Linked DNA regions of Homo sapiens: region 1 is linked to region 2. The links come from fine-mapping of genetic effects on gene expression. A gene starts in region 2. The other region holds a variant in brackets. All regions are shown on one strand. Distances are between the middles of the regions.

Region 1 (8,756 bases), 360 kb before region 2:
CTGTGTTACTTCACTTAGAATAGTGGTCTCCAATTCCATCCAGGTTGCTGCAAATGCTATTAATTCATTCGTTTTTATGGCTGAGTAGTATTATATATACACCATAGTTTCTTTATCCACTTGTTGATTGATGGACATTTGGGCTGGTTCCATATTTTTGCAATTTCAAGTTGTGCTGCTCTAAACTTGTGTTTGCAATTATCTTTTTCGTATAATGACTTACTTTCCTCTGGGTGGATAACCAGTGGTGGGATTGCTGGATCAAACGGTATTTCTACTTTTAGTTCTTTAAGGAATTTCTGCCCTGTTTTCCATAGTAACTGTCCTAGTTTACATTCCCACCAGCAGTGTGGAAGTGTTCCCTTTTAAACACATCCGTGTCAACACCTTTTTAGTCTTAATGACTGTTTTTTCCTTTTTTCTTTCTCTCAGAGCCCATTCCAATTTTAGCCTTCTGTATCTCAGTTCATAGCAAGTCTAATGTTCCCAAAACATTGGAATTATCCTTGATTGCTATCTTTTTCTCACACCCATTACAATATGCTGGGAAATCTGGTGACCTTCCAGAATGTGACCACTTCTCATCACTTCCACTTCTGTCGTACAGATCTGAACAACTTTTATCTCCTGCTTGGATTACTGTGCTATTTCTGTCTTGTTATCCTGTAGCCTATTCTCAACACAAAAGCAGGAATGATTTTCATAACTGAAGTTCATGTTAATTCTGTGCTGAGTGTCTTACATTGGCATACGTTTTACTCAAGGTAAAGGCAAATATTTGAATATGGCGCATAACACTTCGCACAATCTTGTTTTTGCTACCTCTAGAACAGCAGTTTTCAATTGCTGGCTGATTTTGCTCCCCCAGGGAAAATGTGATAATTTTTGATGATCATTACTGGGTGGCAATGGGGGTAGGGAGTTGGGGGGCTGTGGATGTTGCTACCATCCAGTGAATGGAGTCCACGGATGTTGCTAAATATCCTAGAATGTCCAGGTTACCCCGTTACATCAAAGAAATATTGGATTTAAAATAGCATTTGAGAATCCCAGATGGAAAGCCTCATTTTCAAATGTTCTCCTTTTTCTCTCAACTCCAACACTGGCATTCTTGTTGACCTTTGAAAACACAGGGATTGTGGAAACCTCTCAGTCTTTTCACTTTGTTTTCCCTCAGCGTGGAAAATATTCCTTCTAGAAATTCACATGGTTTGCTCCTTTACTTTTTCCAATCTCTGTTCTGATGTCCTATCTCATTGGGTTTCTCTTTGATCACTTGATATAAACGAGAATTCCCTAGAAATCTTTTTCCCCTAACCAGTCTTTATTGGACTTTTTAACATCTGTTCGTGTGATATCTATAAATTGTATTATTTATTGTCTGCTTCTCCTTATTAGAATGTAGAATGCTGCTGAGTGGCTGTTTTGTGTGTTTTGCTTCCTTCTTTTCCCTCTAGAGCAATGACTGGCATGTAGAAGGTACTTACAAATAATCATAATATAAAGCAATGAAGTGGAGAAAACCAACAGAGTCTTTCAAAGGAATATAAGAGAAACATCAAACTCATATTGGCTGAAGCTATGTCTCATTTGGTCATGTAAGGGTGTCTGATTTGTTTGGTGAAAAGGGTGGTGCCTGCCTCTATGTACTTTAGGTATAGGACACAGAATGCTCATGAGTCTTGCAATTAAAGAAAATGTTTCCTTGGAGAAATGGGTGGCATAAAGCCTCAGAGGGCCCAGAATGAGTCAAAACAAATCAAGTGGGAGAGTTGAGCAGGGGTAGGAACATGCACGGCCTTCTAAACTACTGCAAATCTGGATTCCTTGAACACAGTGAGAATAAGGAGTTGGGTCATGTCAATATTTTAAGTCAAGGAGTACCGTCATCATATCTGCATTTTAGAGTGGTCAGCATCACTGTGCAGTGGATCCTAAGCTGGAGGAGAAGGCCACAGTGAAAAGTAAGAAAATCAATTAGGAGACAGCTCTAGTAATGAGACGAGATAGTCATGCTTTTTAAATATTTCATTTCCTATACATCTTCGTATTTTTTAAAAATTTCTAAAGTAGACCTATGTTACTTTTAATAAAAATGTTTAGATTTGAATAATTTGTAGATTTAAGTAAAAAAAAATGAAAATATGCCTTAGAAATTAGGAAACAGGAAAATTGTGCGATATCCTAGATGTCTTCCCTAGAATCTGGTGAAGGAATAAGACCAATTATTAGATCGTTAGATATTCTTATTAGTCACTGATTTAATGAAACTCAGAGTTTCTTGTAGCATGTCTTGTGGGATGAGGTTCCTCACCCTCCTCACTTTCTTCACATTTGCTACTATGATCCATTTGTGCTTGTGCCACCCTCCAAATTTATGTGTCAAAATCCTAACGCTCAAGGTGATGGTATTATGAGGTGGATCTTTGGGAGGGGATTACGAATTGAGCCTTTCTAAGAAAGACCCCAGAGTGCTAACTCCACCCCCCAAACCTTAGCCATGTGAGGACACAGAAAGAAGGAGCCCTCACTGAATCAGAAAGTGAATCTCGCCAGAAACTGAATTTGTGGCTCTTTGATCTTGGACTTCCCAGCCTCAGAGCACTATGAAATAATTTTCTGTGGTTTACAAGCCACCCAGTTTATGGTATTTTATTATAGCAGCCACAGTGATCTAAAATATTTGGTTTTCTGTGCTTGTTTGTGAGTTGTGTGTGTATGTGTGTGTGTGTGTGTGTGTGTGTGAGAGAGAGAGAGAGAGGGAGAGGGAGAGAGAGAGAGAGAGAGAGAAAGAGAATGTTTTGCTTCAAATTAAAGTGTTTTATTCACTCTTACTTCATTGGTTCCCACGCTGTTGAAAACACTTTGGTACTTTAACAAATAAACCAAAGCAATATAGCTCCTCTAGCGATTTTTAGTAGTCTGTATGAATTGGCACAGAAATTTCTCTTCCTGGAACTCCCTCTTTACAAGACACTTGCTAGGAATAAACTATTTTTTTTAGTTATTGAATCATTCTGATTAGGACATAGTCTCACTCAATGTTGAGTTTTGAATTTTGGCCATCACATTTATTAATACTTAAAATAATCTTATATTTATTTATCTGCTTGCCTGCTTGGTAGCTAGGTCTCAGCTTGTCTGTCTGTCTTTCTAGAATGAAACTGCTTTAGTTGTTTGTCTTGTCCTATACCTAGAAGAGAACCTGGTAGAGTGCCTGATTTAGTGAGTGTTTTGGCTGATTGTATTATTATTTTGATATTAGAAAATTGCTTTTGAAAATGCACTTTGTTTTGAAACAAAGCTATTTGGGCCTCAAAGTACAGAAAAGTCATAACTACTGCCAGAAAAAAAGATTCTGAAAGAATATAGATTAAGGCAGTGCTTTCTGCTTATATATCAAAACAGAAGGAAGCATTTTTTGGGCTTTCAGCATTTGATTTCACAAACCCTATGGATAATTTCACTCCGTTAAGCAAATTTGAAATCATTATAGCCCAGTTTGCTTGTCTATAAAATAAAGGGATAGAATTAGACTGTCTTTCTGCTCTAAATTCCTATGCTCATACGTCCAACTGGATGATAATATTAGCTACAAATCACGTGTCTATGTTCTAGTTTAAATTTTCTCTTTAGGCCTATGACTTTGGGCTCAGTGTTTATGTTTTGAAGATCTTTA[A/C]TTTCCTCAAATAAAAAGTGATAGGGTTTAAACAGATGATTCATTTCCAATATCTATGAAATTCCCTAACATTTGTACTTCTTAGATTATAGTAATATTTAAAGCTATGAAGATGGGTTTATTGCACTGTCTCGTAGTGTTTCAGTGTGATAAAGTTAGGATTGTTAAAGAAACACTTCTGCCATGCACAGTTAGGCTCATAATTCAAGAAAGATTGCAGTTCAGAAGGTAAGAGGGTAATATGAGAGCCATTATTCTTGGGAAGTCTAAGATGCTGGAATCCAAAGATGAGTAGACTTGACCCTGGAGTTCTTTTGTCTCCTGTTCCAGATATTCTGGCTTTTTCTTATAAGACCATTAACAAGAACACTTGTATTGATTTTTATTTGTCATATAAATTGTAGGAGTTAAGACTTGAGCTGTTTTCTTCTACAGGGAAGGAATTTAATCTAGTGTAAAAGCCAGTTGATGAACTATTTAGAAAAATAGGTGATAGACACTGGAACTACTTTATTATAAGCCATAAATCCTTAATTTGATCTTGATTAATGTTATAGTAGAGCCAGAACCCACAAATTTTTATTTAGAGAACCTTTGGGATTATGTAAATCTATTGGACATAAATGCCTTTGAGAATGCAAACCTCTAGGTTACCATTGTTTAGACCCAAAAATAAGATTAGTAGACATTTACTTCCCAGTTACCTCAAATTCTTTCCCCATGATATTTAATAAAATTTACACTTATTTTAGATTTCATTATTTGCAAATTGAGTTTCTGGCTAAGTTCATTCACCAAAATGAGCAATGTAGTTTTTTCTAATATTCAAAAGTTTTTTTAGTAGTGACTGTGAAATTATAAATCGGAGAATATAAAATTTTATCATTAGAAATGATATGTTTTAGAATGCATATTATTGAAACTGTTTACATACTTTTGTATATAATACTTACTGAGGTTGCTTGTAATGACAAAACTTTGCTAAAATTAGGAACATAAATAAAGATACCCCACTTCACAAAAAGTTGCCACAGAATTAAGTCAAGTAACTCTACATTAAATTTAAAATACAATGCAAAATGTTGATCATTATTACATCCAATTTTAAGAAAATATTTTTGTACCAAAACAGAAAGCACAGTGAATATGGAGACACAAATTTGAACGAAATAGCTGAAAACTGAAAAAAAAATTTTTATTCAGAGTCAAGACATTTTTGTTTTGGTTATATGTCTCATGATATTTTTGCTAAAGAGTTGGAGTCATTATTTTTCTTTCTTTAGAAATATTTTAAAATCCATTGAAATCATACATTCAAATTACTACTACTCATTTTATGAAAGCTAAACAGTATTTTCATACATTACAAGTTAATCATTTATTGCCAGATATCAATCTATAGCCAGACTATTAGGGCATTCAAGATATTGATCAAAATACTGAAGTCCAGATATATGAGGTTTACATGTCATTATGACTAGTTTAACTGATCTATATTTTAGTGTTGCAGTTGACAGGTAATATGTTTATAGTTCGTTCTTTGGATCAACATGTTGTTGAAGTTTCCCCCCAGATTTCTGCAGTGTCTTTAAAGATGCTTTATGAAAAAAATGTAATGGTAATAGTAAAATCATGGCTGTGACTTGCCTTTTAGTCACCAGGGACCATTAGAAAAACAACTAGCTAGAGCTGGCTTCCTTTGCCTCAATGGATTCCTCTAGGCTCTACCTCTCACCTTCAAATATATACTCACTTTTTCTTTCCTTGTTCCTCCAGTTTAAATCCCTTTGTCTCACCGGTGTTCTTTTTCTCAGTTTAACCCCTTTAGATTATATTTGGGTATGGGATTCTCTGCCTGGCTTTCATTTCATCCCAGGAAGTGGTTTCTCAGATCAATCTTTTAGTCTCTGCACAAATGCTCTATGTGTGTCAGGTGACACCTAAATCTGCCCCAGGGATATTTCAGCATTTTTGGTGGCCTCTACTTTTTTCTGGGAGGAAGCACCTGGTATTACTAAGAGTTATACTTCCTGTCAGTGATACTGACCTGAGTTCAGGAGAAAGAAAGCACACAGACCATAAGTTTTAAGAGAGGTGAATTTTATGTGTTGTTTTTGTCTTTAAATAAATGAAAAGTTGGTATTTTTTCATGGTTAATAAAATGTCAAGCCATTACTTGCTGCAATTTGTCTTATTATGTCTATGTCATAATCAGTTGAAACAGTTGAGATTAAATCGAAGAAACAGAATCCTACTTATATATGTGATAAGAAACTTATGATAAGAATTTGACCTTATATATTTGTAGCAGCTGGTTAAAGTCTGTATAAAGCTGTTTTGTGCTTGGGGTTGGAGCCTAACATCAGTAGAGCGGGTAGTCAGGAAGGCAAGATGATACTAAGTAGAACAGAGGATGGATAAGCTGGAATCCATGATGGCAAATTGAAACCTTCATATTTCTCCCTCTGCCTCTGAGACTTCAACTTTGACCATAAGAATACCTTCTAGGAGAGCATGATGTCCTTCATCACAGAATTAAATTCCCCTCTCTTTTACAACTTATGGTTATATAATGTCAGTGCGCTTTCTTTCTGCTGAAGTCAGGTCGGTATCATTGACAGGAAGCATAATTCTTAGTAATACCAGGTGCTTCCTCCTAGAAAAAAAAAAGATGCCACCAGAAAGAATGAAATATCCCTGGGGCAGATATGCTGTCCCAACTAGGATCCTGCAGAAGCCACAGGATGTTTAAGTGCTGTGGGCCAAATGGTGCCCCATACAGCCCCAGTGAGCCAGCAGCAACTGACAATACGTGTAAGCTGAATTCGTACGTGGTGTTCTCAATTCTTGTTTCAAGCATAGGTACATAGCTGCTGTTTCACTTTTACCTGCCAGCTCTTGCACAGAATATCTCTTGTGGCTTGCATTAACTTAGAACTAAGCAAGACAGCAGTGCTGGGAAACATAACTTGGTCTAGCTAAACTGACAAATACAAATTCACCCAACTGCATACAGCAATTGCCATATAAATTTACATGACCACAAACTGTATATAAGAATTCCTATTGGGCTTCCCATTCTCACCAATATTTGTTTTTGTCCAACTTTGTTTTTACATTTTTGCTATGATGGTCACTGTAAAATTATATCTCATTTTGATTGGTTTTAACTTGTACTTTTCTAATTCGTGATGGATTGAATATATTACCATGTGCTTACTGACCACTTGGGTTTCTTCTTTGGAACTGCCTATTCATATCTCTTGCCCTATCTTTCTATTGGGTGGTCTTCTGTTTGTCAACTTGAAGGAGAACTTTATAAATTCATGTTATTAATTTTCTGTTGATTTATCATTTTCAAGTATCTTTTCCCAATTTGTGGTTTGTTTTCTATGTTTTTAAAAGGTTCCCCTTAATGAACAAATTTCTTATTAAATTTAGTGATAATGAAATTTTAAGAGATTTTAAGAAATATTTTATAGTTTATATTTAAGTATACAAGATAATTTTTTAATATACATAATGAAATAGTTCCTATATTCAGGCAAATTAACATATCTGTCATCTTACAGTTATCCCTTGGAGTGCATGTGTGTGTGTGTGTGTGTGTGTTTGTGTGTGTGTGTGAGGTCACCTAAAATCTACTCTCTCAGCACACTTCCAGTATACAAAACAATATTATTAGCTATTATCCTCGTGCTGTACATTAAATTTCTAAACTTATTCATTCTACTAATTGCAACTTAGCAGCCTTGGAACTACATATCCCCATTTCCTCCCTACCCCCAAGAGTTCTTAATATAATTACTTTTTGGTATTTTGTTTAGGACATCATTCTGTATATTAGGCCATAAACAATTGTTAAGTTTTACACATTTCTTTCTTTCTCTCCTGTTCTAAAGCATGCTGTGAGATAAGTGTTCTATCACTATTGTTTGCCCCTTATGGATAACACATTGTCTCAGCACTAATTACTAAGTCCTGTCTTTCTCTCTAATACACAGTATTTATATGTAACAAGTTTCTGTATAGGTTGGTTCGGTTTTGGGGTTCTATACAAATTACTCTAGCTTTGTAATAAAACTTGATAATATTTCTTGGTGAGTGCTTTAGCTGTCACTGCCCACGAGATTTTCAAATAAAATTTCAAATCATAATATCAGTTAACTAAAGAAATGTAGTTTCCATTGGAATTGTATTAAATTCATAAGCCAGTTTGGGTTGAACTAATTGTCCTGTCTTTACACATAGAGTATCTCTCCATTTATTATAGTCTGCTTTAATATACAAAATTTTATCATTTGTTGGTATAAAGTTCTTGTCTAACTTTATGTGGGATTATTTCTAGGTGGCAAATAGATGCTTTTTGCTAAAAATTACTATATCTAATAATAAAAGTATGAATTGATTAAATATTCTTACCATAGTTTCTCGACCTTTGGTATATTTATATTATACAATCATGCATCTGCAAATAATGATAGTCTTTTTTTCTTTCCAATTATTAAATCTTTTATTTTTCTGGCCTTATTACACTGTCTAGAGCCTTTAGTACAATCTTTTTTCTTAATTTTTTTATTGTGATAAAAAACAGGATTTACCATCTTTACCATTTTTAAGAGTACAGCAGTGTTGATAAGGAGCTTAAAAAGAAATTATTTAGGCAGTTAGTGAGGGTAAGAGAGTCCTCAGTAAGGCTTCCCTTTTTACAAAAACGCAGCCCCCATATCATTCCTTCTCTAACAAAGAGCAGCCTGTAAAATCGAACTGCAGACGTAGATAAGGCAAGCTGGATGCTTGCACGGGTGAATGCTGGCAGCTGTGCCAATAGGATAAGGCTACCTGGGGGCCAGGCATGTTCAACATTGAGGCTCCCTTTTCCCTTTTCTTTGTCAACCACGTGTACGGTAAAGGAACCGGCAACATGGAGGTGGCCAGACAGAGAACCCATCTTCACAATAAAAGATTAGGGTGGGGCCACCAGTTCCTTCTCATCTATAAAACCCCATGCGTTTCACCAAGAAACCGGAAGACCCACTTGGGAGCCCCTCTCTCTCCACAGGAGAGAGACCTTTTC
Region 2 (8,756 bases):
GCTGCAACTAGAAGTCTTCCATGAACTTTCTTTTAAAAATAGACAGTATGGCATAGTGCAGTGTTTCTCAAAAGAAAATAAATATATTGATCTCTATACCTTATTAAGTGTTGATATATTATTTTATTATAATTTTATGTTAAAATAGAGAAACACGAATTTAGACCTAAACACTGTAAGCCTACAGTTCTTAACCAAGTTTTTGAAATATAATGCATATGTTAATTAAATTTTAAAATCTCGCAAAAAAATTAAAATTTTAACTAACACCACCAATTTAAGATTGTGTGGGCAAGCCAAAATATTATTATAGGTTTAATAGAAGGAAGATACTATTCAATTCTGATACTGTCCTTGGTCTGTTTCTGTATTTGACTTCAATAATTCTCATATAGGAAAGTTCTGTTTAATAAGGCTATATAAAATGTTACTGGTACCTTCACAGTTTTCTGCTTATGATTATCAAAGAAAAAGCTCTGCCAATATGCAATTTTTCAATGTCAATTTTATTAAAGAATGTTTTGATAATTCTGTAAATGCTTTATAATCCCACAGCAATATGTGTCCGTTGCAGCATTATTAAAATCTGTATTTATATCACTATTTACTTATTGCTTTGAATTAAGAACATGAAAAATTTTATCTCGAAACTTTATCATATATATATCATACAATAAATAAGTCATAATGTATTAACTATATATTATGACTAACAACCTGCTGTAACTTTAGACATACAAAAATACCTCTTAATGAGTGTAAAATGTTAACTCTTCTTTTGAGTTCAGTATACCTGTACCACAGTGAGTCCTAGGACATTTGAATCAATTCTCTCAAGCCATTTGCCTATTTGATTATGAATCTCTGTTTGGTCACTGGGCATAATCTTACATGGACCTCATTCTAGACACATATATCCATAAGCAACAAAAATAAAGTAATTGGGATCCATCACAATAACTATGAACAAAGTAACTATCCACATGATCTGGAATTTGCCCATATTTGTGGCTTGTTTTCTGTATACTGTTTTTGATGGAGATATTATAGTCCCCTAATAATACATATACCTACTTCAGCTTAAGAAAAAACTATATTTTGCCAAATTTTGTAATCAGACTGGGTTTAAATACCAGCTCTGATGACTCATAACTCTGATCTCGAGAAATTTACTTACCATCTCTAAACATTAATTTCTCAATTAGGGAAGTGATATGACAAAGTTGCTGTGAAGTCAAATGAAGGAATGAATGCAAAATCCCAACCCTTTACATATTACCTCTGTTCTCAATTAATCATTGGCTTGAACTGAACATTTTTAACATGGTTCCCTGCTAAAGGTGTTTTTACATATAGTAAGACCTAATAGATAATATTATGTTACATAATCTATAATTATTATATATAAAACTATATAAAATTATATAGTACCTATTTAGACATATAAAAAGGGAAGTTTTTTAATGAAAAATTAGATTGGCTGAAGAGTGTGGAAATCATCACATAGGGAAGTGGTCAGCACTGTGGATATACACCAAACAGTATTACAGAGACATACTGAAAATAAAGCACACTGACAGAAAGAAACCTCATTAGGATAGAATTTTGGGAGATTGGTGTCTTGTTATTCCCAGAGTCTGACTTTTCTAATCACGTAGCATTGTCAGGGATATCTAAATTTTAAACTTCAGATTTTGTACAAAAAAACCTAAAAGGACTATATTTTAAAATAAGAAGCATGTACAAATAATTGTAAAGGAAAGAGTGTGAGTTTTGTAGTCTCCAGTTCTGTGTCAGTAAGAATTTGATGAGGAATAGCCAATAGCATTTATGCTGGTCCAGGCTGGATCAAATTGTGATCGTACTTCTAGTCTTCAAGCTGCCTGGTTAGAAATTATGCAGCTTACTTTGATGCCTGTCCTACTACTACTATTAGCCTTTTAGTGGTTACCTTAAGAATAACTGAATAATACTGTTACTTTGCATCTCTCAAAGACCGTGCGCTGTTCCCGCATACTTTCTTGCAGACGTATTGTCTTCTGAAGGATGGTGCCCATGGGCACAGCAATTTGGGGCATCTTTTGGTAGGAAGCATGATTTCTCCTGTTTGGGCACAAAAGAGTGACTACGGAATATAAGCTAAACACCTTCTCCCAGAAATATCAGTTGTAAAACTTAGCTCATTAATGTAATGTTGAACGTTTTCATGTGAGTCATACTTGAACTTCTTGAATGTGAGTAAATAACGGAGTTGAATTGTATAAAACCCTGATGGATGGCAGAAGGGAAAGAACATCCCTTTCATCTGATCCATGCCTGAGATTCCTTCCCTCTACTATACTACTGGAAATAAACAACTTGTCTGGTGCTCTAAAAATTAATGCTATTATCATTATAGAGAGAACAGGAGTGAGTGCTTTTAGGTTATTACTTGTTCTTACTAAGGCATCATATTCTTTCTTCACGTGTTTTGTGTTTGAGGCTAGGGATAAAGGTACAGGAAAAAGGATCTAAGAAAAAAACTCGAATCTCTAAACATGGAGTCTTTTTTTTTTTTTTTTTTTTTGAGGTGGAGTCTCACTCTGTTGCCCAGGCTGGAGTGCAGTGGTGCGATCTCTGCTCACTGCAACCTCCGCCTCCTGGGTTCAAGCAATTCTTCAGCCTCAGCCTCCCGAGTAGCTGGGATTACAGGCGCATGCCTGGCCAATTTTTGTATTTTTAGTAGAGACTAGTTTCACCATGTTGGCCAGGCTGTTCTAGAGCTCCTGACCTCAAGTGATCCAGCCACCTCGGCCACCCAAAGTGCTGGGATTACAGGCATGAGCCACCACACCTAGCCAAACATGGAGTCTTTACTCAACATTATAGTAACGTGAAAGAGGAGATCATGAGAATTAATGTATGTTTTAGAAGGCATAGATTACTTATAAAAAAGGAAAGATCAGGCTGGGCACGGTGGCTCGCGCCTGTAATCCCAGCACTTTGGGAGGCCAAGGCGAGCGGACCATGAGGTCAGGGGATCAAGACCATCCTGACCAACATGGCGAAACCCTGTCTCTACTAAAATACAAAAAATTAGCCGGGTGTGATGGCACACGCCTGTAGAACCTGGGAGGCAGAGGTTGCAGTGAGCGGAGATCACACCACTGCACTCCACCCTGGTGAGACAGCGAGACTCCATCTCCAAAAAAAAAGGAAAGCTCAATCTGCTGTAAATTATGTGCTTGTTTCAACAACCCTTGTTTCTTTTCCTTTTCACTTCTCTTTTTTTTTTAAAGCGGCCTAAATGGGGTGAAGAGTGAGTTATCTGACAAATTTAGATTTTGCAAACCTGTGCATTGATGAGAGTGCTATTGAAACACATTAAGAAAGATTTTCAACGCAGGAATGTGTCATTTCCTTTCTTCATGTACCAGATGCTGAAATACTATGAGATAAAGATTTTAGGTTTCAATTGTAAAGAGAGAGAAGTGGATAAATCAGTGCTGCTTTCTTTAGGACGAAAGGTAAAGAAAAAAAAAGGCTTATTTTAATGTTTTTTCCAGAATTGTTTCTATTGATTGTTATGTGTGTACTCTGTGTGTGTGTGTGCATGCATGTGTGTGATATATATTTGTGTGTCTGTGTGTGTATGATGAGATGAATGCTTTATTGTATCAGCAATAATTTGGTTTGGTTTTTTTCGATAATCAAAAAATAGGGATTTCTGCTAAATTTTCCATGAGTGAAAAACATATATGTTCACAAGTACATATGAAATACACTAAATGCTTTGTAGTTTGAACCAGCAATGGGGTTTTTTCATATAATTAAGCATATTTTGTTTAAAATACTGGTTTTATTCAAAGTATAATTTGACATATTTCACCTATTCTCCTTTCATAACTTTTCATGGAACATTTTTGGCTTTAATCTAATGCCTTTTATTATCTTCCCTTGATTATATAGCAAATATTGGCTGGGTATCTACTATATGCACTTCATTGAACTAGATGTGGGGAAAGGATACAAAAAATAAGATATAGTTCTTTTTGTGCTCCGGAATCTTATGATTTAAAACATATCCCCAAATAGGCATAATGTAATTTGAGCACCTTAAGTAGTATGAAAGTACTATAGATAATTACTAGCACCTTAAGTAGTATGAAAATGCTATAGATAATTACTATGAAAATATAGGCGAGGCCAAAATTACTTCTATGTGAAAAAAGTCTATCAAAAATAAATCTTCATGGAGATGCTAGAAATCTGATTAATCTTGAAGACTAAGTAAGATTCACACAGCATATAATGGGAGGTTGGCATTTGCACTGACCAGGTAAAAATACTTATAGAAAAACCATAGAACTGAGATTACAGATGTTTTATGCAGTGATTAGCCGTTTTATGCAGTGGGTAAGAGCTAATCTTCTGGGAGTAGACTGCCTGTGTTCAAATTCCAGCTCCCCTGCTCCCTAGTTGAGTAACTTGACTAGTTACTTACACATTTCAGTTCCCTAACCTGTAAAATGGAGAAAATACTACTTGTACCTCATGAAGATTCCGTGAGAACAAAATAAGAAAAGCTCATATTTAAAAAAAAAGTGATATTTTAAAATAACAGGGATTCATATATTGATGGTTTTCTGTGTACCAGGCAATTTACAAAAATTATTTTTAATTCTCGCAATAATTCTTTAAATTTATATTGTGATCATATTTTACATATCTAAAGAAAGTTCAATTCAAATAAGTTAAAATATTTGCCTAAGATCACACAGCTAAATGATGTCACAGTCAATACTCAAATCTAGATTTCAGATTCAAAAGTTGATGCTCTTTCTTCTTTGCTACCAAGGATGAATATCAGTGACATCAGGCACAATATAAATATTTCCATTTCTTACTAAAATCTGTCTTACAGACGGGTTCCTTAAGCATAAAGCTGTTAGTTTCACAAATAATCTTAATTTAATTTTCATTTTATATACACATTCAACTGCTGTTACAAAAATCAAAGTTATTATTTTATATAATAAGGAGGATCACAAGCTTATTATTTATTCCAAATGTTGAAGATAAAGTTGGCCTTAAGAATATGATGGGCCGGGCACGGTGGCTCACGCCTGTAATCCCAGCACTTTGGGAGGCCAAGGCAGGTGGATTACCTGAGGTCGGGAGTTCAAGACCAGCCTGACCAACATGGAGAAACCCTGTCTCTACTGAAAATACAAAATTAGCCGGGCGTGGTGGTGCATGCTTGTAATCCCAGTTACTCCGGAGTCTGAGGCAGGAGAATCACATGAACCCAGGAGGCGGAGGTTGTGGTGAGCCAAGATCACGCCATTGCACTCCAGCCTGGGCAACAAGAGCGAAACTCCATCTCAAAAACAAAAAGAAAGAAAGAAAAAAGAAAGAATATGATAAAAAAACTAAATAGGGAAAAATCTTAGGAAAACGAATGCATGTCAAGTATGAAAAGACAGATGGTAAATATGTATTAAACATAAAGAGCTGATTCACATGCTTAGGTAAAAGAAACCTGTGGGGATGTATAAGCAGTGAATATGAATAGATAATAACCCAAGAAGAACAATGTATGACAGACAATTACAGTGAAATCTCTCTCTTACATTAATAATAAAAAATAAAAATGAAAACCACTTTTAGGTATTATTTAACTCTTATCAAAATCTAAATGATTCTAAAATAAGCTTTATTATTCAATGGTAGTGAATTTTGCTTGAAACTGCCATATTCACATATAAGTCTGGAATATTTATAAATTTATGTTATCTTTTTAAAGATCACTAAGACAGTAGAGCCCAAGAAGTTCAAAATAGTTTTCCTTTCACTTTTTAGTTTCACATATGATGAATTATCCTAAAGAAACATTTTAAAAGAAGAAAGCTAAATTATGAAAATAATGGCCGGGGCAGTGGCTCACATCTGTAATCCCAGCACTTTGGGAGGCCAAGGAGGGTGGATCACCTGAGGTCAGGAGTTTGAGACCAGCTGGATGAACGCGGTGAAAAATACAAAAATGAGCTGGGCATGGTGGCAAACGCCTATAATCCCGCTACTCGGGAAGCTGAGGCAGGAGAATCACGTGAACCCAGGAGGCAGAGGTTTCAGTCAGCTGAGATCACACCATTACACTCCAGCCTGGGTGACAAAGCAAGACTCAATCTCAAAAAAAAAAAAAAAAAGGAAATATTTATAACATCATTATTTATATCAGTGAAGCATTGCCCCCTGGGAAAAGGAAAAAAAGTTTAAAAGAAAAAATTATATTTTAGAAAAATGGCTGTATTTTTTATTTAGAAAAATGGCTGTATAAATAAGATTTTATATATATATAAAATATATATAAAATAAGATTTTATATATATATAAAATATATATAAAATAAGATTTTATATATATATAAAATATATATAAAATAAGATTTTATATATATATAAAATATATATAAAATAAGATTTTATATATATATAAAATATATATAAAATAAGATTTTATATATATATAAAATATATATAAAATATATATAAAATAAGATTTCATATATATAAAATATATAAAATATATATAAAATATGATTTTTTATATATAAAAATATATATAAAATAAGATTTTATATATAAAATATATAAAATATATATAAAATAAGATTTTATATATATAAAATATGATTTTATATATATAAAATATATATAAAATATATATAAAATAAGATTTTATATATATAAAATATATATAAAAATATATAAAATAAGATTTTATATATATATGAAATGTAAATAAGATTTTATATATATATGAAATGTAAATAAGATTTTATATATTTGAAATATAAATAAAATAAGATTATATCTAAATATATATAAAATAAGATTTTACATATATGAAATATATATAAAATAAGGTTTTACGTATATATGAAATATATGTAAAATAAGGTTTTACGTATATATGAAATATATGTAAAATAAGGTTTTGCGTATATATGAAATATATGTAAAATAAGGTTTTGCGTATATATGAAATATATGTAAAATAAGGTTTTATATATATAAGCAAGTCTTTGCTACATAATAATTCAACACATATATATATGTTGTTTTATATATATATATATATATATATATATATATGTATGTGTGTTGAATTATTAGGTAGCAAACACTTGGAACCAACCCAAATGTCCCTCAGTGATAGACTGGGTAAAGAAAATGTGGCATATATACACCATGGACTACTATGCAGCCATAAAAAAGATGAGTTGATGTCCTTTGCAGGGACATGGATGAAGCTGGAAACCATCATTCTCAGCAAACTAACAGAGGAACAGAAAAAGAAACACTGCATGTTCTCACTCATAAGTGACAGTTGAACAGTGAGAGCACGTGGACACAGGGAGGGGAGCATCACACACCGGGGCCTGTCAGTAGGTGGGAGGCAAGGGGAGGCATAGCATTAGGACAAACTCCTAATGCATGTGGGACTTAAAACCTAGATGATGGGCTGATGGGTGCAGCAAACCACCATGGCATATGTATACCAATGTAGCAAACCTGCACGTTCTGCACGTGTATCCCAGAACCTAAAGAATAATAAAAAAAATTTCAAGTTTGAAAAATTCGTTTGAAATATTAAAATAATGAGGTGATTTTAAGGAAAACGCGTAATACCAAATGATACGTGCATGATGATATGAACTATGTTACAGGTATACATACATCCAAAGACTCGAGTTTCATTTAAAAAATTAAGGGTTTTTTTCCTTTATTAGGGTGATGAGATGACAGAAATTTCATCCTAACATATCTATAATATTATTAAAATGTTTTATAATAAAAACAAAAAAGTAAGGTATATGGTTCCCAACAAATTAACCTTGAAATTCTTTCATTATGAATTTCCTGTAAACTTTTCATCCACTTGATAAAATGCTGATATTACAGAAACGTGTTTCACTTCTCATGAGCACGTGCTTTTAATAGATTACACAAACTCCAAGGATTTTACAATCGTTTATCAGCACACTGACATTTAATAGGAAGAGTAACTTTATGTGAAGCTACTTTTTGTCCTAACTGTGGAACTGATATTAAAAGGCACACTTGAACAGTGTGAGTTGTTCACTGCCTGCTAATGAAGGCTCATGCAAGTATGTATGTTCACGTTACTAAAAAATTACAATGATTATAACCAGAGTAAGCAGCTGAAATAATCTGGTAATTTTAATAATAAATGCTTTTGAAGCAAAGTGGGTTCACTGAGGGTAATATTTTTTGTTTCAGTTTGCTAGTTACGTGCAGTGCAGAGAGAAATATTTTATTTTCCAATATGTAACAGAAGAATTTTTAAAATCCCTACTTTAGTGAACCACAAAGTTTTCTTGAGGCATAACCTAAGATATAAAATCCAGTCATCTTGAAAAATATCTTGCCTTTCATTTATTTATGTAATTTTAAATACGGCATTATGTATGTAATGAGCACCTTCAGGAACTCTCTGATCCCTGAACCAAAGAGATCAAAAGTCCACATCATGGATCTGGCTTGGATGAGAGAAGACAGATGATAGACAAGACAAATAAGGAATATATGTTTTTGGGGGAAAGAAAATGAAGCCAGGGTGGGGAAGACAAAGCCCCAAGGGGTTGTAGGTTGAAAATGGATGTTCAGGAACAGTCAGCTTGCTTGCTTGCTTGCTTTTTCTTTCTTTCCTTTTTTTTTTTTTTTTTTTTTTTTTGGAGACAGAGTTTTATT

Direction of the effects. Alleles are on the strand shown, and positions count from the first base shown. SD is a standard deviation of normalised expression in the study named.
With allele A in place of C in region 1, the expression in monocytes of the gene that starts at base 3,453 in region 2 is higher (moderate effect, 0.59 SD a copy in Quach 2016).

The links. PIP is the estimated chance that this variant, and not a neighbour inherited with it, causes the effect.
Region 1: its variant is fine-mapped to the expression of MSR1 in monocytes (Quach 2016, PIP 0.95).

The regions. Positions count from the first base shown.
Region 1 is chr8:16,545,193-16,553,948 of GRCh38, reverse strand. The region is part of intron 6 of LOC101929028 (a long non-coding RNA gene); the gene reads left to right. Among named protein-coding and RNA genes, the nearest start is that of MSR1, 360 kb to the right of the region's middle. The variant A/C (reference allele first, on the strand shown) is at 3,680.
Region 2 is chr8:16,187,348-16,196,103 of GRCh38, reverse strand. It overlaps MSR1 (macrophage scavenger receptor 1), which reads left to right and starts at 3,453. Exons shown (of 10, transcript NM_138715.3): 1 at 3,453-3,506.